3 separate regions of the Homo sapiens genome follow, and all the other regions are linked to region 3. The links come from fine-mapping of genetic effects on gene expression. A gene starts in region 3. Each other region holds a variant in brackets. All regions are shown on one strand. Distances are between the middles of the regions.

Region 1 (8,362 bases), 140 kb before region 3:
TCAGCCTTACAAAGTGCTGGGATTACCTGCGTGAGCCACCGGGTCCGGCCTCTTTATGTCTTACTGTACTGTCTGTCTTGAAAAGTACTTATTATTTTTGATTGGTTCATCATTTAGTCTAATTAAAATAAGAGTAGTTTACACACCACAATTACAGTATTATAATACTCTGTTTTTCTGTGTGCTTACTATTACCAGTGAGTTTTGTACCTTTAGATGATTTCTTCTTGCTCATTAATATCCTTTTTTTTTTCAGATTGAAAAACTCCCTTTAGCATTTCTTGTGGGATATAGGTCTGGTGTTGATGAAATCTCGCAGCTTTTGTTTGTCTGGGAAGGTCTTTATTTCTCCTTCCTGTTGGAAGGATATTTTTGCCAGATACGTTATTCTAGGCTAAAAGTTTTTTTTCCTTCAGCACTTTAAATATGTCATGCCACTCCCCCCTGGCCTGTAAGGTTTCCACTGGAAAGGTGGCTGCCCCATGTCATGTATTGGAGCTCTACTGCATGTTATTTGTTTCTTTTCTCTTGCTGCTTTTAGGATCCTTTCTTTATCCTTGACCTTTCGGAGTTTAATTATCAGATGCCTTGAGGTCGTCTTCTTTGGGTTAAATCTGCTTGGTGTTCTATAAACTTCTTGTACAAAAAATCAGCCAGGCATGGTGGTGGGCACCTGTAATCCCAGCTACTTGGGAGGCTGAGGCAGGAGAATCGCTTGAACCCTGGAGGTGGAGGTTGCAGTGAGCCGAGATCGCATCATTGCACTCCCACCTGGGCGACAGAGCAAAACTCCGTCTCAAAAAAAAAATTATTTGGGCTCGGTGGTGCCTGTAGTCCCAGCTACTTGGGAGGCAGGAGGTCCACTTGATGTTGAGATTGCAGTGAGCCATGATCCTGCCACTGCACTCCGGCCCGGGCAACAGAGTGAGACCCTGTCTAAAGAAAAAATAAAAATAAAAAAGCAACATATCCTAAATAAAGGATCCTCCATAATGTTTCCACCAGATTTCTAATCAGAAACATGGAGGCCAGGAAGCAGTGGAGAATGACGACCCTCAGGCAGCCCTGGAGGATGCTGTCACAGGCTGGGGCAACGGCCTTCAGGCTACCAACTGGGAGCTCTGGGAACAGCCCTGTTGCAAACAGGAAGTCATGGCCCGGCCAGAGCCCAGAATGTGGGCTGAGCTGGGATCCATGTGACAGCTTTGAGGCTCACCGGGAGCAGCCTCTGGACAGGAGAGGTCCCATCCAGGAAACCTCGGGCATGGCTGGGAAGTGGGGTACTTGGTGCCGGGTCTGTATGTGTGTGTGACTGGTGTGTGTGAGAGAGAATGTGTGCCCTGAGTGTCAGTGTGAGTCTGTGTATGTGTGAATATTGTCTTTGTGTGGGTGATTTTCTGCATGTGTAATCGTGTCCCTGCAAGTGTGAACAAGTGGACAAGTGTCTGGGAGTGGACAAGAGATCTGTGCACCATCAGGTGTGTGCATAGCGTCTGTGCATGTCAAGAGTGCAAGGTGAAGTGAAGGGACCAGGCCCATGATGCCACTCATCATCAGGAGCTCTAAGGCCCCAGGTAAGTGCCAGTGACAGATAAGGGTGCTGAAGGTCACTCTGGAGTGGGCAGGTGGGGGTAGGGAAAGGGCAAGGTCATGTTCTGGAGGAGGGGTTGTGACTACATTAGGGTGTATGAGCCTAGCTGGGAGGTGGATGGCCGGGTCCACTGAGACCCTGGTTATCCCAGAAGCCTGTGTGGGCTTGGGGAGCTTGGAGTGGGGAGAGGGGGTGACTTCTCCGACCAGGCCTTTCTACCACCCTACCCTGGGTAAGGGCCTGGAGCAGGAAGCAGCGGCAAGGACCTCTGGAGCAGCCCATACCTGCCCTGGCCTGACTCTGCCACTGGCAGCACAGTCAACACAGCAGGTTCACTCACAGCAGAGGGCGAAGGCCATCATCAGCTCCCTTTATAAGGGAAGGGTCACGCGCTCGGTGTGCCGAGAGTGTCCTGCCTGGTCCTCTGTGCCTGGTGGGGTGGGGGTGCCAGGTGTGTCCAGAGGAGCCCAGTTGGTAGTGAGGCAGCCATGGGGCTAGAAGCACTGGTGCCCCTGGCCATGATAGTGGCCATCTTCCTGCTCCTGGTGGACCTGATGCACCGGCACCAACGCTGGGCTGCACGCTACCCGCCAGGTCCCCTGCCACTGCCCGGGCTGGGCAACCTTGCTGCATGTGGACTTCCAGAACACACCATACTGCTTCGACCAGGTGAGGGAGGAGGTCCTGGAGGGCGGCAGAGGTCCTGAGGATGCCCCACCACCAGCAAACATGGGTGGTGGGTTAAACCACAGGCTGGATCAGAAGCCAGGCTGAGAAGGGGAAGCAGGTTTGGGGGACGTCCTGGGGAAGGACATTTATACATGGCATGAAGGACTGGATTTTCCAAAGGCCAAGGAAGAGTAGGGCAAGGGCCTGGAGGTGGAGCTGGACTTGGCAGTGGGCATGCAAGCCCATTGGGCAACATATGTTATGGAGTACAAAGTCCCTTCTGCTGACACCAGAAGGAAAGGCCTTGGGAATGGAAGATGAGTTAGTCCTGAGTGCCGTTTAAATCACGAAATCGAGGATGAAGGGGGTGCAGTGACCCGGTTCAAACCTTTTGCACTGTGGGTCCTCGGGCCTCACTGCTCACCGGCATGGACCATCATCTGGGAATGGGATGCTAACTGGGGCCTCTCGGCAATTTTGGTGACTCTTGCAAGGTCATACCTGGGTGACGCATCCAAACTGAGTTCCTCCATCACAGAAGGTGTGACCCCCACCCCCGCCCCACGATCAGGAGGCTGGGTCTCCTCCTTCCACCTGCTCACTCCTGGTAGCCCCGGGGGTCGTCCAAGGTTCAAATAGGACTAGGACCTGTAGTCTGGGGTGATCCTGGCTTGACAAGAGGCCCTGACCCTCCCTCTGCAGTTGCGGCGCCGCTTCGGGGACGTGTTCAGCCTGCAGCTGGCCTGGACGCCGGTGGTCGTGCTCAATGGGCTGGCGGCCGTGCGCGAGGCGATGGTGACCCGCGGCGAGGACACGGCCGACCGCCCGCCTGCGCCCATCTACCAGGTCCTGGGCTTCGGGCCGCGTTCCCAAGGCAAGCGGCGGTGGGGGACAGAGACCGCGTTTCCGTGGGCCCCGGGTGGACAGTGACCGTAGCCCAAGCAGCGCCGACAGGGCGTGGGGTCCTGGACGTGAAACAGAGATAAAGGCCAGCGAGTGGGCTGAGGACAGTGGGCCAGGAAACCACCTGCACGGGGGAGGTGCGAGTCTGTGGGCTGGGAGGGGGCGGGGCTACTGCCCAGACCCGCCAGAAGCCCGGTGGGCGAGGCTGATGCGTCGAAGTGGCGGTGGCGGGGACCGCGCCTATGCTGCGGGCTCAGTGTGGGCGGGACGGGCGGGATCTTCCTTGAGTGGAAAGGTGGTCAGGGTGGGCAGAGACGAGGTGGGGCCAAACCCCGCCCCAGGCAGGGGAGCAATGTGGGTGAGCAAAGAGTGGGCCCTGTGCCCAGCTGGACCGGGCTAGGGACTGCGGGAGACCTTGTGGAGCGCCAGGGTTGGAGTGGGTGGCGGAGGGTGGGGCCAAGGCCTTCATGGCAACGCCCACGTGCCCGTCCCGCCCCCAGGGGTGATCCTGTCGCGCTATGGGCCCGCGTGGCGCGAGCAGAGGCGCTTCTCCGTGTCCACCTTGCGCAACTTGGGCCTGGGCAAGAAGTCGCTGGAGCAGTGGGTGACCGAGGAGGCCGCCTGCCTTTGTGCCGCCTTCGCCGACCAAGCCGGTGGGTGATGGGCAGAAGGGCACAAAGCGGGAACTGGGAAGGCGGGGGACGGAGAAGGCAACCCCTTACCCGCATCTCCCACCCCCAGGACGCCCCTTTCGCCCCAACGGCCTCTTGGACAAAGCCGTGAGCAACGTGATCGCCTCCCTCACCTGCGGGCGCCGCTTCGAGTACGACGACCCTCGCTTCCTCAGGCTGCTGGACCTAGCTCAGGAGGGACTGAAGGAGGAGTCGGGCTT[C/T]CTGCGCGAGGTGCGGAGCGAGAGACCGAGGAGTCTCTGCAGGGCGAGCTCCTGAGAGGTGCCGGGGCTGGACTGGGGCCTCCGAAGGGCAGGATTTGCATAGATGGGTTTGGGAAAGGACATTCCAGGAGACCCCACTGTAAGAAGGGCCTGGAGGAGGAGGGGACATCTCAGACATGGTCGTGGGAGAGGTGTGCCCGGGTCAGGGGGCACCAGGAGAGGCCAAGGACTCTGTACCCCCGTCCACGTTGGAGATTTCGATTTTAGGTTTCTCCTCTGGGCAAGGAGAGAGAGGGTGGAGGCTGGCACTTGGGGAGGGACTTGGTGAGGTCAGTGGTAAGGACAGGCAGGCCCTGGGTCTTCCTGGAGATGGCTGGGGCCTGAGACTGGTCCAGGTGAACGCAGAGCACAGGAGGGATTGAGACCCCGTTCTGTCTGGTGTAGGTGCTGAATGCTGTCCCCGTCCTCCCGCACATCCCAGCGCTGGCTGGCAAGGTCCTACGCTTCCAAAAGGCTTTCCTGACCCAGCTGGATGAGCTGCTAACTGAGCACAGGATGACCTGGGACCCAGCCCAGCCACCCCGAGACCTGACTGAGGCCTTCCTGGCAAAGAAGGAGAAGGTGAGAGTGGCTGCCACGGTGGGGGGCAAGGGTGGTGGGTTGAACGTCCCAGGAGGAATGAGGGGAGGCTGGGCAAAAGGTTGGACCAGTGCATCACCCGGCGAGCCGCATCTGGGCTGACAGGTGCAGAATTGGAGGTCATTTGGGGGCTACCCCGTTCTATCCCCTGAGTATCCTCTCGGCCCTGCTCAGGCCAAGGGGAGCCCTGAGAGCAGCTTCAATGATGAGAACCTGCGCATAGTGGTGGGTAACCTGTTCCTTGCCGGGATGGTGACCACCTCGACCACGCTGGCCTGGGGCCTCCTGCTCATGATCCTACACCTGGATGTGCAGCGTGAGCCCAGCTGGGGCCCAAGGCAGGGACTGAGGGAGGAAGGGTACAGCTGGGGGCCCCTGGGCTTAGCTGGGACACCCGGGGCTTCCAGCACAGGCGTGGCCAGGCTCCTGTAAGCCTAACTTCCTCCAACACAGGAGGAAGGAGAGTGTCCCCTGGGTGCTGACCCATTGTGGGGACGCATGTCTGTCCAGTCCGTGTCCAACAGGAGATCGACGACGTGATAGGGCAGGTGCGGCGACCAGAGATGGGTGACCAGGCTCACATGCCCTGCACCACTGCCGTGATTCACGAGGTGCAGCACTTTGGGGACATCGTCCCCCTGGGTGTGACCCATATGACATCCCGTGACATCGAAGTACAGGGCTTCCGCATCCCTAAGGTAGGCCTGGCGCCCTCCTCACCCCAGCTCAGCACCAGCCCCTGGTGATAGCCCCAGCATGGCTACTGCCAGGTGGGCCCACTCTAGGAACCCTGGCCACCTAGTCCTCAATGCCACCACACTGACTGTCCCCGCTTGGATGGGGGGTCCAGAGTATAGGCAGGGCTGGCCTGTCCATCCAGAGCCCCCGTCTAGTGGGGAAGACAAATCAGGACCTGCCAGAATGTTGGAGGACCCAGCGCCTGCAGGGAGAGGGGGCAGTGTGGGTGCCTCTGAGAGGTGTGACTGCGCCCTGCTGTGGGGTCGGAGAGGGTACTGTGGAGCTTCTCGGGCGCAGGACTAGTTGACAGAGTCCAGCTGTGTGCCAGGCAGTGTGTGTCCCCCGTGTGTTTGGTGGCAGGGGTCCCAGCATCCTAGAGTCCAGTCCCCACTCTCACCCTGCATCTCCTGCCCAGGGAACGACACTCATCACCAACCTGTCATCGGTGCTGAAGGATGAGGCCGTCTGGAAGAAGCCCTTCCGCTTCCACCCCGAACACTTCCTGGATGCCCAGGGCCACTTTGTGAAGCCGGAGGCCTTCCTGCCTTTCTCAGCAGGTGCCTGTGGGGAGCCCGGCTCCCTGTCCCCTTCCGTGGAGTCTTGCAGGGGTATCACCCAGGAGCCAGGCTCACTGACGCCCCTCCCCTCCCCACAGGCCGCCGTGCATGCCTCGGGGAGCCCCTGGCCCGCATGGAGCTCTTCCTCTTCTTCACCTCCCTGCTGCAGCACTTCAGCTTCTCCGTGGCCGCCGGACAGCCCCGGCCCAGCCACTCTCGTGTCGTCAGCTTTCTGGTGACCCCATCCCCCTACGAGCTTTGTGCTGTGCCCCGCTAGAATGGGGTACCTAGTCCCCAGCCTGCTCCCTAGCCAGAGGCTCTAATGTACAATAAAGCAATGTGGTAGTTCCAACTTGGGTCCCCTGCTCACGCCCTCGTTGGGATCATCCTCCTCAGGGCAACCCCACCCCTGCCTCATTCCTGCTTACCCCACCGCCTGGCCGCATTTGAGACGGGTACGTTGAGGCTGAGCAGATGTCAGTTACCCTTGCCCATAATCCCATGTCCCCCACTGACCCAACTCTGACTGCCCAGATTGGTGACAAGGACTACATTGTCCTGGCATGTGGGGAAGGGGCCAGAATGGGCTGACTAGAGGTGTCAGTCAGCCCTGGATGTGGTGGAGAGGGCAGGACTCAGCCTGGAGGCCCATATTTCAGGCCTAACTCAGCCCACCCCACATCAGGGACAGCAGTCCTGCCAGCACCATCACAACAGTCACCTCCCTTCATATATGACACCCCAAAATGGAAGACAAATCATGTCAGGGAGCTATATGCCAGGGCTACCTCCCAGGGCTCAGTCGGCAGGTGCCAGAACATTCCCTGGGAAGGCCCCAGGAAAACCCAGGACCGAGCCACCGCCCTCAGCCTGTCACCTTGTGTCCAAAATTGGTGGGTTCTTGGTCTCACTGACTTCAAGAATGAAGCCGTGGACCCTCACGGTGAGTGTTACAGTTCTTAAAGATGGTGTGTTCAGAGTTTGTTCCTTCTGATGTTAAGACGTGTTCAGAGTTTCTTCCTTCTGGTGGGTGCGTGGTCTTGCTGGCTTCAGGAGTGAAGCTGCAGACCTTCACAGTGAGTGTTACGGCTCTTAAGGCTGCACGTACGGAGTTGTTCATTCTTCCTGGTGGGTTTGTGGTCTCACTGGCCTCAGGAGTGAAACTGCAGTCCTTCCAGTGTTACAACTCATAAAGGCAGTGTGGACCCAATGAGGGAGCAGCAGCAGCAAGACTTACTGCAAACAGCAAAAGAATGATGGCAACCAGGTTGCCGCTGCTACTTCAGGCAGCCTGCTTTTATTCCCTTATCTGACCCCCACCCACATCCTGCTGATTGGCCCATTTTACAGACAGTGGATTGGTCCACTTACAGAGAGCTGATTGGTGCATTTACAATCCCTGAGCTAGACACAGAGTACTGATTGGTATATTTACAAACCTTGAGCTAGACACAGAGTGCTGAATGGTGTATTTACAATCCCTTAGCTAGACATAAAGGTTGTCCCAGTCCCCACTAGATTAGCTAGATAGAGTAGACAGAGAGCACTGATTGGTGCGTTTACAAACCTTGAGTTAGACACAGGGTGCTGACTGGTGTGTTTACAAACCTTGAGCTAGACACAGAGTGCTGATTGGTGTATTTACAATCTTTTAGCTAGAAATAAAGGTTCCCCAAGTCCCCACCAGATTAGCTAGATAGAGTGCTAATTGGTGCATGCACGAACCCGGAGCTAGACACAGAGTGCTGATTGGTGCATATACAATCCTCTGGCTAGACATAAAAGTTCTCCAAGTCCCCACCTGACTCAGGAGCCCAGCCAGCTTCGCCTAGTGGATCCTATGCCAGGGCCACAGGCAGAGCTGCCTGCTAGTCCCACACCGGGCACCTGTACTCCTCAGCCCTTGGGCAGTGGACGGGACCAGGTGCCGTGGAGCAGTGGGAGGCACCCATCCGGGAGGCTCGGGCCTCGCAGGGAGCCCACCGTAGGGAGGCTTGGGCATGGCAGGCTGCAAGTCCTGAGCCCTGCCCCGCGGGGAGGTGACTGAGGCCTGGCGACAATTCAAGTGTGGTGAGCGCCGGCAGGCCAGCAGTACTGGGGGACCCGGTGCCCCCTCTGCAGCTGCTGGCCCAGGTGCTAAGCCCCTCACTGCCTGGGGCCAGAGGCACCAGCCGGCCGCTCCGAGTGCAGGGCCCGCTGAGCCCCTGCCCACCCAGAACTGGTGCTGGCCCGCGAGCAACCCAGGTTCCCGCACACGCCTCTCCCTCCATACCTCCCCGCAAGCAGACGGAGCCGGCTCCAGCCTCCACCAGTCCAGAGAGGGGCTCCCACAGTGCAGCGCTGGGCTGAAGGGCTCCTCAAGTGTGGTCAGAG
Region 2 (8,362 bases), 34 kb before region 3:
TCTCTCTCTCCCCGCACCTCCCCCCGAAACTGGTAGAACTAATGAATGAATTCCGTAGTTTCAGGACACAAAATCAACATATAAAACTCCATAGCATCTCTATATACCAAAGATGAACTATCTGAAAGGGAAATTAAGAATGCAACCTCATTTACTTTAGCAACAAAAATTTTAAAATACTTAGGAATTTACGGGACTCAGCAAAATAACTGACACAAATAAATGGAATAAAAACACAAATAAGTGGAAAGACATCTCATGTTCACAGATTGGAAGAATTAATATCGTCTAAGTGTCCATACTACCTAAAGCAATCTACAGATTCAATGCAATCCCTATCAAAATCCCAATTGCACTTTTTATAAAAATAGAAAAAAAAAATCCTAAAATTCATATGGAACTACAAAAAACCCTGAATAGCCAAAGCAATTTTGAACGAGAACAAAAAGCTGGAGACATCACACTTCCTGACTACAAATTATCTATCTTACAAAGCTATCACCAAAATAGTATGGTGCTGGCATAAAAACAGACACAGACAAAATGGAACAGAACAGAGAACCCAGAAATAAACTCACATATTAATGAACAACTTACTTTGACAAGGGTGCTAAGAACACACAATCGGGAAAGGATAATCTGTTCAATAAACAGTACTGGAAAAACTGGGTATCTACACACACACACACACACACACACACACACACACACAAATGAAATCTGACCCCATCTCATACTACACAACAATCAACTCAAATAGACAAAAGGCTCAAATGTAAAACTTGAAACTGCAAAATTCCTCGAAGAAAACATTGGGAAAACCTTGACATTGGTCTTGTAATAATTTTCTCAATATGACACCAAAAGCACAGGCAATGAAAGAAAAAATAGACAAGTGGGATTACATCAAACTAAAAAGCTTCTGCAGAGCAGAAGAAATAATCCAAAAAATGAAAAGGCAACCTACAGAATGGGAAAATAATGTTTGGAAACTATATAGCTGATAAGGGATTAATATCCAAAATATATAAGGAACTCATACAACTCAATGCTAAAAATACAAATAACTGGATTAAAAAATGGGCCAAGAACCAAAATAGACACTTCTCAAAAAAGGAAATTCAGATGGCCAATAAGCATATGAAAATGTGTTCAACATTTGTAATCATCAGGTAAATGCAGATCAAAACCATAATGAGATATCACTTCACACCTTTTAGGCTATTATCAAAAAGATAAAAGATAACAAATGTTGTCAAGGATGTGGAGAAAAGAGAACCCTTGTACACTGCTGTTAGGAATATACATTCATACAGCCATTATGGAAAAAGTATGAAGGTTCCCAAAAAATTAAAAATAGAACACATGGCCGGGCACGGTGGCTCACGCCCGTAATCCCAGCACTTTGGGAGGCCGAGGCGGGGAGATCACAAGGCCAAGAGATCAAGACCATCCTGGCTAACATGCTGAAACCCCATCTCTACTAAAAGTAAAAAAAATTAGCCGGGCATGGTGGCAGATGCCTGTGGTCCCAGCTGCTCGGGAGGCTGAGGCAGGAGAATGGTGTGAACCCAGGAGGCAGAGCTTGCAGTGAGCCCAGATCACGCCACTGCACTCCAACCTGGGCGACAGAGCGAGACTTGGTCTCAAAGAAAAAAAAAAATAGAACATATGATCAAACAATCCTATAGGATAGTAAAGGGATATCTGTACTCCCATTGTTCACTGTAGCATTTTGCACGACAGTCAAGATATGGAAACAACCTAAATGTCCTTCAGTGATGAACAGATAAAGAAAATGTGATTATACACACATACAAAACAGACTATTATTCAGCCTTTAAAAAAGAAAATCCTGCCATTTGTAACAAAATGAATGAAGCTGGAGGAAGTTATGTTAAACAAAATAGGCAAGACACAGAAAGAGAAATACTGCATGATCTCCCTTTTATGTAGAATCTAAAATAGTCAAACTATAGAAACAGAAAGTAGGATGGTGGTTGCCAGGGGCTGGGAAGAGGGGGAAATGGAGGATGTTGGTCAAAGGGTATAAAAATGGTAACTATATACAGGTAATAGATATGTTAATTAGTTGGAATGTGATGGTCATTTCACAATGTTTCACAAAAACATTCAGTTGTATACATTAAATATATATAATTTTTGTATGTCATAAATATTAAATTATTGCAAAATAATTTAAGAGACAAAAAAGTGATTCACCAACTGTGTTTAATAGCTACATATTAATGATGGCAGCAGCAGGCCATCTGGAGCAGCTGCTGCCATCACGCTGGCTGCAGCAACTAGGCATGGCCAGGGCTGCATGCTCCATGGAGAAGGCAAAAGCCAGGGACAAGCGCGAGACCCGCCCCTTCCAAGTTGGGGTGAGAGCTTCCTGGATGCTGCTGCAGCCGCCCAAGCCGTGGCTGCAGACCCAGGCATCCCTGTGCTCTCAGGGCCCAGAGGGGCAGGTGGGAGCTCCACCCTCCCAGGCACAGCTCCAGCTGCCCAAACCGTGGCTGCAGACCCAGGCATCCTTGCACTCTTGGGGGCCCAGGAAGGCCCCCCTTGTTGCGGGAAGTCAGGGACCCCAAACGGAGGGACCGGCTGAAGTCATGACAGAAGAATGTGGATTGTGAAGATTTTATGGACATTTATTAGTTCCCCAAATTAATACTTTTGTAATTTCTTATGCCTGTCTTTACTGCAGTCTCTAAACATAAATTGTAAAGATTTAATGGACACTTATCACTTCCCCAGTAAATATCCTTGTGATTTCCTATGCCTGTCTTTGCTTTAATCTCTTAATCCTGTCAGCTGAGAAGGATGTGTATCGTCTCAGGACCCTGTAATAATTGCGTTAACTACACAAATTGTACAGCATATGTGTTTGAGCAATATGAAATGTGGGCACCCTGAAAAAAGAACAGGATAACAGCAATTGTTCAGGGAATAAGAGAGATAACCTTAAACTCTGACCACCGGTGAGCCGGGCAGAACAGAGCCATATTTCTCTTCTTTCAAAAGCAAATGGGAGAAATATCACTGAATTCCTTTCTCAGCATGGAAAGTCCCTGAGAAAGAGAATGCGCACCTAGGGGTAGGTCTCTGAACTGGCCCCCCCGGGGCGTACCTGTCTCTTATGGTCGAGATTGCAGAGGTGAAATAAACTCCAGTCTCCCATAGCGCTCCCAGGCTTATTAGGAAGAGGAAATTCCCGCCTAATAAACTTTGGTCAGACCGGGTGATCTCAAAACCCTGTCTCCTGATAAGATGTTATCAATGACAATGGTGCCTGAAACTTCATTAGCAATGTGATCTCACCCTGCCTCCACTTGCCTTGTGATATTCTATTACCCTGTTAAGTACTTGATGTCTGTCACCCACACCTATTCGCACACTCCCTCCCCTTTTGAAAATCCCTAATAAAAACTTGCTGGTTTTTGTGGCTTGTGGGGCATCACAGATCCTACCAACGTGTGATGTCTCCCCCGGATGCCCAGCTTTAAAATTTCTCTCTTTTGTACTCTGTCCTTTTATTTCTCAAGTCAGCCGACGCTTAGGAAAATAGAAAAGAACCTACGTGATTATTGGGGCAGGTCCCCCGATACCCCCTTGCCCTTGCAGGCATGGAAATGCCTGTTCCTACTGCCTAGCTTCTCCCTGCCTTCTCTGATCTCAGAGCAAAGTTGGGCAGTGCTGACACACCAGCCCCCTGCCGCCCTGGCCCCCTCCAGATTTTGGGCACAATGAGCATAGAAGGAAACTGAGGGGAGCTGAGGGCAGCTTGGCTTGGCACCTACAGCCTGGGTACCATCAACGGAAGGAGGCAGACAGGTTCCTGGGTAGAAGGGGATGGGTCCCTGGTGACGTCACACCTTCAGGCCAGGGAGGGCTTGAAAGCTGGGGGCCAGGATGCCAGTCCCATGGACTGGAGTGAGAACTTGTGATGGCTTTTCTGGGCCTGCCCATGGCCACATATGGACCAATCGATATGTACTTCTTCCCCTCTGAGGCCCATAAAATCCCTGGGCTCAGCCAGAGCTAAGCAGATGTTGGGACGACCAGCTGCAGAGAGGAGCTACCCATTCCAGGACCCCTCTCTGTTGAGAGCAGCAGACATCAGCACAATGAGCTGCAGTGAAGAGCTACCCACTCCAGGGCCTCCTCTCTGCTGAGAGCCACAGAGATGACAGGAAGACCTGCCTGCAGATAGGAGCTACCCACTCCAAGGCCTCCTCTGAGCTATTGTCACTCAATAGCTCCTGTTTGTCTTGCTCACCCTCCACTTGTCTGTGTACCTCATTCTCATTGCTCACCCTCTACTTGTCTGTGCACCTCATTGAAGAACTTTGGACCCACTAAATGAGGCTAAAAGACCTGTAACACAAACAGGGTTGAGACATGCCCCTTGCTCAACATGTTGTGGGCAAAGAGAAGAAAAGAAGAGCTGCAGCCCTTTGGGAAGCCCAGACCTGGGAGCTCTCCAAGCCAGGGCTGTGACTCCCTCTTTGGGGCCCTATGGTTCCTGGCATCTCCAAGCTTCTGGGCACCACCTTTTCCCTGGTGCCAGCTGTGGAAGCTGCTTGGAGTGCGACTGGTCCAGCTGCAGCCTCGTGGAGAGCTGGTGCCCATGCTGGTACCTGGAGCTGACCACCCCACTGCAGCAGCTGGCACATCTGACTGAAAAATAGCCAGACCCCACACTTCCCCACACACCCCTTGTCACTCCATGCAATCTCCCTTGGCAGGCATGGGATCCAGGCCAGTAGCATGAGCCAAGTGCAGCCTGTCAGGCCGGGTGGGTGGAATGAGCCCAGTGGGCCCAAGCAATACTTGGGCAGAGGTGCCACTTGTCCACAGAGGTTTCTGGCCAGAAAAGTGACACCCCAAAGATACCATAATATTAATAATTAATACCCTGTTTTATTATTTATAATAAATTCTAATTACTAAAAATTACAAGTTTCTTATATTGGCTACTAAATCATACATCTAAACTAATCAAACTGCTGGTCACATCTGTATAGACCCTTTCCCTTTGACAGAACCCCTTCTTTCTAATCCATTTAGGAAGCTTCAAAGAAAGTTTATTCTCTAGCAGTCCATGGTTGTCTGCCCCACCCTCTTCAGGCTCCAGAAGACTCTCAAGGCAAAGGCCAGGAAGAATATC[A/G]TACGTTTCACTTCCTACCTGACAATGAGGTAATCTGTGTAACAGAATAAATTTTTACATTATTAATTTGAATTGGGCTTCTACATTTTATATATATACATACATGATTTTCAAGCAAGCAACCAAGTGCTAGGCAAGGAAAGCCAAGTCAACATGAAGGCAAAGGCTTTCTATTACCTTTTGGGTAAACCCAAATCCTGAGATTTGGATTAGGATAGATGCTTAAGAGATAGAGGTGATGCAGACCAACAGCACAGCTGAGAGGGCAGAATCTGGAAGTTTAAGGAATTGTCAGACTCTCAAGGATAAGGAGGCCTTTGGGGTCCTACTCCCCAGTTCTAAGGAGCAATATGGTACACAGAGTTGGATCTCTGACACCCTGGTTCTAAGCCCTACCTAAGATTCTGGGGTCCCAAGGCAACAAGCTTTTAGACTTGACGGGACTGCCAGGACTGGATAGTGGCTGTTTCAGAAGCAGTCTGATGACCAGAAGAAACTTCTCAGCATCTTGGTGCCAAATAAAATCTGGATACCTTTGCATAATCTTAGGATTTGTGAGAAGCCCACCAACAAAGCAGATGGTGGTGGGGATCTTGGTAACAGAAATAAATTTACAGAAAACAAAGACATGCAATATTTCTTGAACATATTAATCTATGGATTGAAAAATCGGCCAGGCACAGGCCGATGCCTGTAATCCCAGCACTTTGGGAGGCCGAGGCGGGTGGATCACTTGAGGTCAGGAGTTCGAAACCAGCCTGGCCAACATGGTGAAACCCTGTCTCCACTAAAAACACAAAAATTAGCCGAGCATGGTGGCAGGCACCTGTCATCCAAGCTATTCAGGAGGCTGAAGCAGGAGAATCGCTTAAACCTGTGGGGCAAAGGTTGCAGTGAGCCGAGATCGCGCCACTGCACTCCAGCCTGGGGGACAGAGCCAGATTCTATCTTGAAAAAAAAAAAAACAAAAAGAGGAAAATCACACCAACTATATGTTTTTGTCCTGATATCTCAGGGTAGCTGAGCCAGGAAGGTTCTGCTCCAGCAGGCTGGGGAGCATCCACTTACCCATGAAAAGGAGTATTTGGAGGCTCATTTTAGGGGCCAATACCAGATAGTCCAGGACTAAAAGGTCTTCTTATTTCTATCCCTTTATATTTCTAATAGGAAATGAAAGAGTAGACAACAGAGTATAGTTTCTGTATTGCAGCTGGGGAAGAGACAGGAAGAGCGGAATCCACCAGCACAGTGAGTGAGTCAGAAAGAAAGTACTCAAAACGTCAGTGAGGAGCTGAGGAACTCAGCACATGAGTGCTCTCAGCATGCAGAAGGCTCAGCTGAATTCTGACTGGATTTGTCCTCAGCAAAGCAAAAACCAGGGTCCTTTGAATATACAGGACACAAAGCTCTTCTTATAGAACAAATTGGACTGAGCCTTTGGGGGAAACAACTGTACCAGACAGTGGGAGCTAACTAACAGTAGGTGTGCCACGCAGCACCACGTGGGTCCAAACTGTGGCTCCACTTGGTTCTATCCTTACACAGTCACAGCCTTTGGTTGTACTGGGGCAGTTTGGTGGACCAGGTAAACAGGTACCCTTTGCACAGGAGAACATGGTGGAATTCCACCTTTAAGAAACTCGAACCTGCTACGCTTTTCAGGTAACTGGACCCCACCTCAAATCTACCTGGTACAAGTATAACTAACATGAAGAGCAGAAGAGAAGTCTAGTTTGTATTCTTTTAGAATTCTAATCCCCAAATATTTGCCAGAGATCAGTTACTCGGAAAACTTTCTGATATAAAAAAGGCCTCACCCATTCACCCTGTTCTCAACTTACCATCACATTCCAGCAGACACTGAAAAGCTGAACAAGGGAAACCTTATCCCTGCTCTAGTTGGTTGAGTCTCTCCTCTCTTCCTCTCATCACTGTTGCCCACGTACTGTAGTTTGGAAGTAAGAAAAGAAGAAACTTAAAATATCTCGTTATTTTCCTCCAAAAATTTTAGGGATAAAAGCGCCAGATCCTATGACCCATGTTTAAGATCCAATATTGCCTGGATTCCCTGTTTGGAAACTTTAGAGAGGTTTACAGCCACACTTTCCCTTTTCACTTCTTCCCTTCATGCCAGTTGCCTGGGCAAAGTGGCTGTCCCTGTGTTTTGACATTCCAGCTTCCTAGACCCATAACTCTATCCCAGTAATTTCTGAGAGGAAGCAGCAGCTACTTTCTATATATTTTATCTTCAAGATGTCCCACCCTGCTTTCTGTAAATTGGATATAAAGCTCTTTTATTTGGAATGGAAGGAAGAATGGTCTTTTGACTTGTCTTCATTTTTGGAAAGAGCTTTAAGGTCTAGCATACTCCAGATACCTGAAGTCCATTCTAATTCTAATATCCCATAATTCCAGAAAGTGTTTCTCAGTTTCTTCCACTGAACAAAATGTTTACTGAATATTCTAAAATCAAATAATTTTGAAAAAACTGTAAATTTTGAAAATCTCTCCTTCTTGGAGATTATGTCCATTAGTATAGTCAAGGCTCTAAGAAGTAGTAAAGAAACCAGTTTTCTTGTCTTTTTCAATTATATTTAACCCAGTTACTCCATTTCACATAAAACCCATTAATATCTACCTGACTTCCTTAAGAAAGGCTGTCCTTGAGAACATGGGAGCATCTGGTTTCCTAATTTTCACAATGCAGATCAATCAATGACTCTAAGCTGTGTTAAGGAAAGCATTTAAAACTTTTAAAAAGCTCCATATACAAAGAAGTTAATCATGAAGTTGTAATAACAAAAACCTGGAAACAATTCAAATACCTTAAAAGAGGGACTGAGAAAATACGTTATGGTGTAACTGTGTCACAGAATATTATGTGGTCACTAACAATATTTACAAGCATTTCTTCAAAACCTATGAAAATGTAAAATATCTGGTGAAACATTATATAGCATGATTTCAACTACATATAAGAAATATGCATAGAAGGCCAGGCGCAGTGGCTCATGCCTGTAATCCCAGCACTTCAGGAGGCTGAGACAGGAGGATTGCTTGAGGCCAGGAGTTCAAGACCAGCATGGCCAACATGGCCAGACCCCATCTCTATAAAAATAAAAAAAATTAGCTGGGCATGGTTTTACCTGCCTGTAATCCCAGCTACTCAGGAGGTTGAGGCACGAG
Region 3 (8,362 bases):
TGCTCTGACAGAATAAATTACAAACTGTTGTTTCGATTAATCCTTTTAATCACCATGTCAGGCACACAGGTTGGAGGATATTAGCTCCCATTTTACAAAAAGTGGAAACACTGTACCCACATTTAGTGTAAGACAGAGCTAGGATATAAGCCTTGGGCTTCCATAGTCACAACTGCTTTTTTCCATAACTTTGTAATACATCATTTTTAAGCAATCTGATTTCACAATGTTTTACAGTATAAGAGTAACATCTATAGCATCTCTTCTTGGCAGGTTACCCCTCTGGAGAGAACCAATGTAATTACCTCATAAGCTGGCACTTTTTTTTTTTTTTTGAGATGGAGTTTCACTCTTGTTGCCCAGGCTGGAGTGCAATGGCGTGATCTCTGTTCACTGTAACCTCTGCCTCCTTGGGTTCAAGCGATTCTCCTGCCTCAGTCTCCCAAGCAGCTGGGATTACAGGCATGTGCCACCATGCCTGGCTATAGTTTCTTTTTTTTCTTTTCTTAAATTTTATTCTGTGAGATGAGGTCCCACTATTTTGCTCAGCGTGGTCTTGAACTCCTGGCCTCAAGTGATCCTCCCACCTTAGCCTCTCGAATAGGTGGGACTACAGATGTGCACCACTATCTCTGGTTCTTTAAAGTAGTTTCTATCCAGGAAGCTAGGGTACTAATAGGATCTTCTTTGGTGAGAAGAAAACAGAGAAAGAGTCCTTTTCTTTCTAGAGGGACAGCTGGAGTACAGGAGTTTATGCACAGTACCTAAGTTCAAATCCAAATCCAAGCTCTCCCACATGCGCTTTAAGCAAATGACTTCTTTTTGTTTTCCCACCTGTGAAATGAGGGAAAACAGTACTGATCTTCACTGTAGATAGACTGAGTTTTTTTACTTTGTTTTGTTTTGAGACAGAGCCTCACCCTGTTACCCAGGCTGGAGTGTAGTGTCATGATCTCAGCTCACTACAACCTCCCCTCTGCCTCCCAGGCTCAAGCAATTCTCGTGCCTCAGCCTCCTGAGTCGCTGGGATTACAGACGTGCACCACCATGCCTGGCTAATTTTTGTATTTTTAGTAGGGACAGGGGTTTCACCATGTTGGCCAGGCTGGTCTTGAACTCCTGATCTCATGTAATCCACTGGCCTTGGCCTCCCAAAGTGCTGGGATTACAGGCGTGAGCCACCACGCCTGGCTGGTAAAGTGGTTTTAACTACAGTATAAAGCTCTTAGAACTAAGAACAGTACTTGAAATAGTGTTCGATAAATGCTATTAAGTATTCAGGAGCACAAAATGGATCCCATAAAGGTAATTCAAAGGACCACAAAAATCAGTGTTTCTGTGTTTTGTTTTTTAAAACATGCTTCCTTCCCTTTCTCCAACACACAAGCAGTGAAGTAGAGAGACACCCATAGCCCGAGTGAGAAGACACCCAAACACCAAATTAGAAATGACTTCACAATCAGCCCCGGAGTCAAAGCCGATTCTCGGACCAGTCCCATCCCACAGCAGCCTGCCTCCTCTTTCGACATCACAGAGGCTGCTGTGTCCTTCGCCAAGGACTCCCTGGCAGGTGGAGTGGCCGCAGCCATCTCCAAGATGGCGGTAGCACCCATCGAGCGGGTCAAGCTGCTGCTACAGGTGCAGCATGCCAGCAAGCAGATCACTGCAGATAAGCAATACAAGGGCATTAGAGACTGCATGGTCTGTATTCCCAAGGAGCACGGAGTCCTGTCCTGGTGCGGTAACCTGGCCAGTGTCATCAGATACTTCCCCCACCCAGGCTCTTAACTTCACCTTCAAAGATAAATACAAGCAGATCTTCCTGGATGGTGTGGACAAGAGATCCCAGTTTTGGCGCTACTTTGCAGGGAATCTGGCATCAGGCGGTGCCACTGGGGCCACATCCTTGTGTTTTGTGTACCCTCTTGATTTTGCCCATACTCGTGTAGCAGCTGATGTGGGCAAAGCTGGAGCTGAAAGGGAATTGCGAGGTTTCGGTGACTGCCTAGTTAAGATCTACAAATCTGACGGGATTAAGAGCCTGTACCAAGGCTTTAACGTGTCTGTGCAGGGTATTATCTACCGAGCTGCCTGCTGCCTACTTCGGTAACTATGACACTGCAAAGGGAATGCTTCCGGATCCCAAGAACACTCACATTGTCATCAGTTGGATGATGCACAGACTGTCACTGCCGTTGCTGGGTTGACTTCCTATTCATTTAACACCATTTGCTGCTACATGATGATGCAGTCAGGATGCAAAGGAACTGACATCATGTACACAGGCACATTTGACTGCTGGAGGAAGATTACTCATGATGAAGGAAGCAAAGCTGTTTTCAAGGGTGCATGGTCCAGTGTTCTCAGAGGCATGGGTGGTGCTTTTGTGCTTGTCTTGTATGATGAAACCAAGAAGTACATGTAAGTTATTTCCTAAGATTTTTCCCCCTTTGAACAGGCATGTTGTATTATATGACATATCTTGAGCATTCTTTTTTTTTGAGACGGAGTCTCCCTCTATTGCCCAGGGTGGAGTGCAGTGGCACAATCTCGGCTCACTGCAACCTCCACCTTTTGGTGGAGCAATTCTCCTGCCTCAACCTTTTGGTTCACCTTTTGGGTGATTCACCTTTTGGGTTCAAGCAATTCTCCTGCCTCAACCTCCTGAGTAGCTGGGACTACAGACATCCGCCACCACTCCCGGCTGTTTTTTTTTTTTTTGTATTTTTAGTAGAGATGGGGTTTCAACATATTGGCCAGGCTGCTCCTGAACTCCCGATCTTGTGATCCACCCACCTGGGCCTCCCAAAGTGCTGGGATTACAGGCGTGGGCCACCGCGCCCGGCTATCTTGAGCATTCTTGACAGACTCCTCGCTGTCAATTTATCAGTGGCAACTATTCACTGGTTGGAAATGGGAAGCAATAATAGTCATCTGACCAGTTTTCTCTTAAAGCCATTTCTATGATGATGATGATGATGGGACTCAATTATGTTTTTTATTTCAGTCACTCCTAATAAATAACAAATTTGGAGAAATAAAAATATCTTAAGAAAAGAAAAAAGAAAAGAAAAGAAAGGCTTCACACCATGGAATGACAAGTGCTCAAATGGCTCTCAGTAAGTGCTCACGGGGACACCACTGTCAGAGTGGTGAGCAATCATCTACCACAAAATGGAACAAAGCAGCAGAGGTACGTAGGAAGCAGGTGAGAACATACAACCTCTAAGGCCCATATAAATCTGTCAAGAAAACTTTCTGGAGGAAGGAAAGATAGAAGAAAGACCTGGATATCAGCATTTGGTAACGTCTACTTCGATCTTCCTGACAACTACATTCAAACTGACCTGAGTGTGCTGGCCCCAAGCACATCATCCAGCTTGAGTTTCAATGCTGGTTGGGAGAAAAGGAAATTGAGGGCAAGTCAGAGCCCAGAAAGGAGCGCAATTTAGAACTGCACAGCGGGGGAGACTGAGTTTGAGTGTAGGAAACGGGAAAGGGGGCGTGTGGGGTAAAGAGGTGAGCGCAGTGGAGTCAGGCCTTAGTGAACAAGTGTGCTTGAAGGTGGAGATGGGCACCCCTCTGGCTGAGTCTGCTCCAGTAGAGAGCTCAGGGGCCAGCAGCAGGCACCGCAAGGAGCAAAGCAACTGGTGTAAGCCCCACAGCTTCCTGCGACCAACAGTGCTTTGTTGTGCCCAGGCATCTGTTCAGTCCCATCTTTTATTTTAAGACAGGATCTGGCTCTGTTACCCAGGCTGGAGTGCAGTGGTACAATCTGAGCTCACTGCAGCCCAAACTCCTGGGTTCAAGCAATCCTCTTACCATCGCCTCCCAAGCAGCTGGGATTATGGGTGCACACCACCATGGCCCACTAATTTTCTACTTTTTGTAGAGATGGGGTCTCACTATGTTGCCCAGTCTTGTCTCAAACTCCTGGGCCACCTCAGCTTCCCAAACTGTTGGGATAAGAGGCATGAGCCACTGCACCTGGCCTCAATTTTTTCAATTTTGTTTTTAAAAGCAGACATCTCCCTGGTTGGAGCAAGGAGGAAACATGGCTTTAGAAAGTTTCCAGGTCCAAGGAGAAGCCCCACAACAGTTTGAGATCTTTCCAGAATGATCCACACTCGACCTCCTCATCCCTCTTACCAAAGAGCGACACCTTGTTCGTGGAAGTAGGAGGAGATACACACCCAGTACCTGTCCTCATCCAACAAAGTCGCAGGCACCCAAGGGCAGCCACGCTGCCACCGAAGGCCCCCGGCTGCTCACAACCGCCGGTCAGCTCCGGCCTCTCTTCGAAGGACACACGCGTCTCGCACCCCCTCCCCGCCCCGCCCTGAGGAGACATGCGTCTGGGCCCCGCGCCTTGAAAAGGCGCATTCCCACCCCCACCCCTCAAACGCGCGAGGCCACGCGTTCCGGCCTCCGCCACCTCCACATGCCGGAACACCAGTGAGGGGCGCGCGCTCCCAAAGGTCGGGGGCGGAGCTAAGAGCGCCGCGCCCAAAAAAGGCGGCAAAGTCCCTGACTCGCTGAGAGTTTGCGAGCCGCCATGTCTATCTCATTCGTCTCCTCTCCTCCGACAGCACGCCGTGCTTCCCCTCAGGCACCTTTCACCGTTAGGGATGAGGGCTCCGCGGCGGTTCTCGGTGTGGCTCTGATTCACCGCCATCTTGCTTCGGGCCTCCTGCCGCCCCGTAGATGGAAAGGGGCGGGACCTGCGCCGAGCTGTGGGGCGCGGTTCTGAAGGGGAGGGCGGAGATTATGACGTAAGGAGGAGGAGGAGGAGGAGCGAGACCGGGTCACGTGGTGGGGCAGTGCCCGGGGAGCGGGGCGGAGTCAGGGTAGAGGCCCCCGCCGAGAAAGGGGAGAAAGAGGCGGGCCCTGAGAATTGGCTCGAGCGCGAAGGGGTGAGTGATAGGTGAGTGGCCTCCCGACCTCACCTGCCCCCTTAGCCCCCTGCCTTTAGGTATGGACTTGGGTTGGTCCTGTCAGGAATGATCTCAGCTCACTGCACCTCCAACCTCCCATGCTCAAGCCATCTTCCCACCTCAACCTCCCATCCATTACTCACTTTGGTTATGAAACACTAGAAAATAATGACTGAGGCCCGACCTGACGCCAACTGAAGATGAACTGACCTCACAAAGTGTTTTCATCTCTAATATCTGTGGCTATTTCTTACCAAGAGAGTCTCACCCTCCACACATGGGTGAGATGACATAATGGCTGATTTGGTCAAGGAGCACAAATAAGACAGGCCAGGCAGTTACTGTTCAAACAGCAATGTTTAGTTGTACAACACATAAAGTCTAGCAACAATTACAGGACCAGTTTGAGTGTCTGTTTGCTTGTTTTCAATTGGGAAATTTAACTGTAATGTCACCGTAAGATTGGCTGGGACTGGTAACATTTAAGAAACGGGTTGTTCTTGCATCCCCTAGGCGTGGGCCTCTTGCTCCATCAGGACTTGGTTGTAGATGAATGGCCCACAAGTCACCAGCCTTTGAGCAAGTTGTGTCCAGGTGGAGACAGGAAGAGGGTGGGCAAAGGGGAATTCTATAAAGACACAGTGTGTGGGGCAGTGGCAGTCAACATTCGCAAACATTCATGCATCTGATGGGGGGCTTTGCCCTCCCTTGGGTATTTTCCATTAGCCTACAGTGACCACCTGTGGTCAGGCTAATTCATTACTCACATTAATGGGGAAGGGGGTTGGGGGTAGGAGTAGGTAGGGTAGGTGGGAAGAGATCCCTCTTATTGCTGAGTGGACAGAAGGGTGCTAGTTTTTCCTTAGCGTGTACATATTGTGGGTTTCTGGGGGTTTGTGTGTGTGTTTAGTTTTTGTTTGTTTGTTTGGACAGAAGAAAGTCAACTCCAGCAATGTCTTCTTAGGAAAACCACTCTTCCTCAGTGGCTGCGTTATGAGGTGGGGAGGATGTACAACCGCACTCTGGGACAGCCACAAGTGGTGATTTTTTAAAAAGTGATCCTAGCCCTTGCTCCCCAACATCTGTAGTGACCCACCCTCATGAATATCTTTAAGTAATGAAGGAGACACCCTTGTCCCACTTTGGGGCTCACACAGCTGATCTCAATGAATCTAGTAAGCAGAAAAATTGCTTTCTTGACCCTTTAAGGAAGCCAAGAGTAGCTCATGCAGATGAATGGGTAGGGAGCAATGCCATTGCCCTTAGAGATGGTTACAAGTAGCTGGGATGGGCTTACAAGGGCAGAAGGAGCTCTTGATGAGTTCTTTCACCCTGCAGATGGGCTAGGACCGGCTGACGCAGATGATGCAGTAGGGCTGTACTGGCAGAACCCCACTCCACTGGGAGGAGAGGAGTGGTTTGGATAAATGGAGGATGCAACTGGCCTAAAGAGGCAGCTGGCCCCTCCCACCTACTGAGGGCTGAGAGGGGCTGTGGTGGTGAGCTGGACGAGCACAGCACTAAAAAGGGCTTGGCCCTGCAGCAATAACAGCTGAGAGGAATGGAGTGAGAAGCAGCGCTTGAAATGGCCTTCATTCAGCAGTGGGGCAGGGGGTGGCTGGCACAGGTGGAAGGACAGTGCCCAGGAGGCCTTCTCCCTGCAGGGGGGTTGAGAACGGTTGAGGGTGTGGAGACCAGCAGCTGGCAGCAGACATATAAAATACCTTCTCCAGGGAGGCTCAGATCATGGTTCAGGGGTGCCAGGCACCATTCCTACTCAGCCTTTCCAACGCCCACCTCCCATGCCCATAGATCTTCCCCTGCTGGTCCAAGGTCTCCATACAGGACTGCTTCTACAGTAGCCAAGGATCCCTGTTCTGTTGAAATGTATAACCTCTGGGCTGTAGCGCTGCTGCTGTTCTGTCCTGACAGGTGCCTACCCTGTAACTTTGTGAGCAAGGGAGGATGAGGGCTGGGTTGGCAGCCTCCAGGAAAGACCGAGAGCATAGGTTGGGGTCACTGGTGACCTGATCACCGCCCCCCTTTCTCCTGGTCCATTGAATCTTGGGTCTTGAGTCTATGTTTTTTTTCCTAGCACCTGAGTGATAAAAGACTGGGATTATAAGTGCTGGGATTCATAGAGGACCAGTGAAACACCTAGGCTGAACCAGGAGATGGGACAGAAGGTTGTATGAGGTTATTGTAAACAGTTTCACTTAGTGTTTTCCCTTCCCTAAGGCTAAACTGTTTCCCTGGCCCCGAATTTCATGAATCTTACAGATTAAAGGAAAAGAGTAACTTACTTGTACAACAAGCAGGGGAAATATATGCATTAATAAATACAGGGCTTCAGGGAAAGGCAAGAAAAGCCTAAATGTATGACGGTGGGTATCATTGGGAATGTCTACAGGAGTCAGGAGGAGAGGGAATTAGGGAAAAGTAGAGAAAGACAGACATAAATATGATTAGCTTCAGCACAAAAGTGATGGGGAATAGAAAAGAGAGGTCAAGTATGTATGAAGCAAATGGAGCAACAGAGAAGCCTGCTTAGAAGGGAGAGAAGTCTGACGGAGAAAACGGAGGTGTGGTCAAAAATTTGTCTTTGAAGCCAAATTACTAAGAAAGACAAATTATGTATATTGTTTCTGATACTTCTTTAGAATTAGTTCTAGAACCTGATGTCCCAATAAAAGGTTGTCTCACATGACTAGCATGTGTGCTTCCTTTAACTGGACACTGGGAACTGCATAACTCACTGTGTTTCCCTCTTTACATTGGCTGCCTGTGAGCTCAGGGCCTGTTCAGGTGCTTGACTACAGAAACTTTCTTTCCTATTCCTTTCTTTGACCCAGATTTCTCTGGCAATCTGTTTGTACTGTCCTGTAGTTTTGTGATTTTATGTGAAAGGCAGTCTAAAGTCATTTCTGGAAGTAGACTGGGCATAAATGCTAAATATAGGAATGAACCTAAAGTAGATTCATCTAAAAGGAAGTGAGAGATGTCAGAGACACGCAGGAGAGGGAGAGAAAGCAATGTATGAGGGAAGGAGGGAAAGGGAGAAAGAAGACAAAGTCGGAAGCAGAGACAGGCAGTGGCCTGGCAGCAGAGGCCAGTTGAGTGGAGAGCAGCAGTAGGCTCTGGTGACAGGTGGTAGCTTTGTGACACTGAACACGACACAGACTGAAGGGTGGAGCTCCATTTGTAGGCACTGATGCTTTCTGCAAGAACCCAGCTCTGGCCTACTTCTCTGCCTTCTCATGGCCTTCCTTTTCCCAGGAAGCCCCAGCCTTACCCCCAGACCACCCCCAACTTACAGGAGGGTTGTCCTGAACTCCCTGCCCCCTACTCAGGTCTAGCTCCACTGCCATCTGTCCTTGGAGAATCTCTATAGCCCCAGTTTGTGTGCAGGTTCCGAGAGAAGAGTTGCC

What was found.
Region 1: its variant is fine-mapped to the expression of WBP2NL in ovary (GTEx, PIP above 0.99).
Region 2: its variant is fine-mapped to the expression of WBP2NL in whole blood (TOPMed, PIP above 0.99). The same link has a PIP of 0.9 or more in blood mononuclear cells.

Annotation. Positions count from the first base shown.
Region 1 is chr22:42,138,182-42,146,543 of GRCh38, reverse strand. It overlaps LOC105377203 (a long non-coding RNA gene), which reads left to right. Exons shown (of 3, transcript XR_938280.2): 3 at 1,006-1,092. It also overlaps the pseudogene CYP2D7. Among named protein-coding and RNA genes, the nearest start is that of CYP2D6, 12 kb to the right of the region's middle. The variant C/T (reference allele first, on the strand shown) is at 4,056.
Region 2 is chr22:42,029,479-42,037,840 of GRCh38, reverse strand. It overlaps a transcript of WBP2NL not described here. Among named protein-coding and RNA genes, the nearest start is that of WBP2NL, 35 kb to the right of the region's middle. The variant A/G (reference allele first, on the strand shown) is at 5,177.
Region 3 is chr22:41,995,132-42,003,493 of GRCh38, reverse strand. WBP2NL (WBP2 N-terminal like) reads right to left here and starts at 4,706. Exons shown (of 6, transcript NM_152613.3): 1 at 4,614-4,706. The coding sequence starts at 4,675. It overlaps SEPTIN3 (septin 3), which reads right to left. Exons shown (of 12, transcript NM_001363845.2): 12 at 5,273-6,592. The coding sequence ends at 6,527. It also overlaps the pseudogene SLC25A5P1. RefSeq lists enhancers at 1,591-2,790, 4,125-4,639, 4,640-5,156 and a silencer at 4,754-4,813.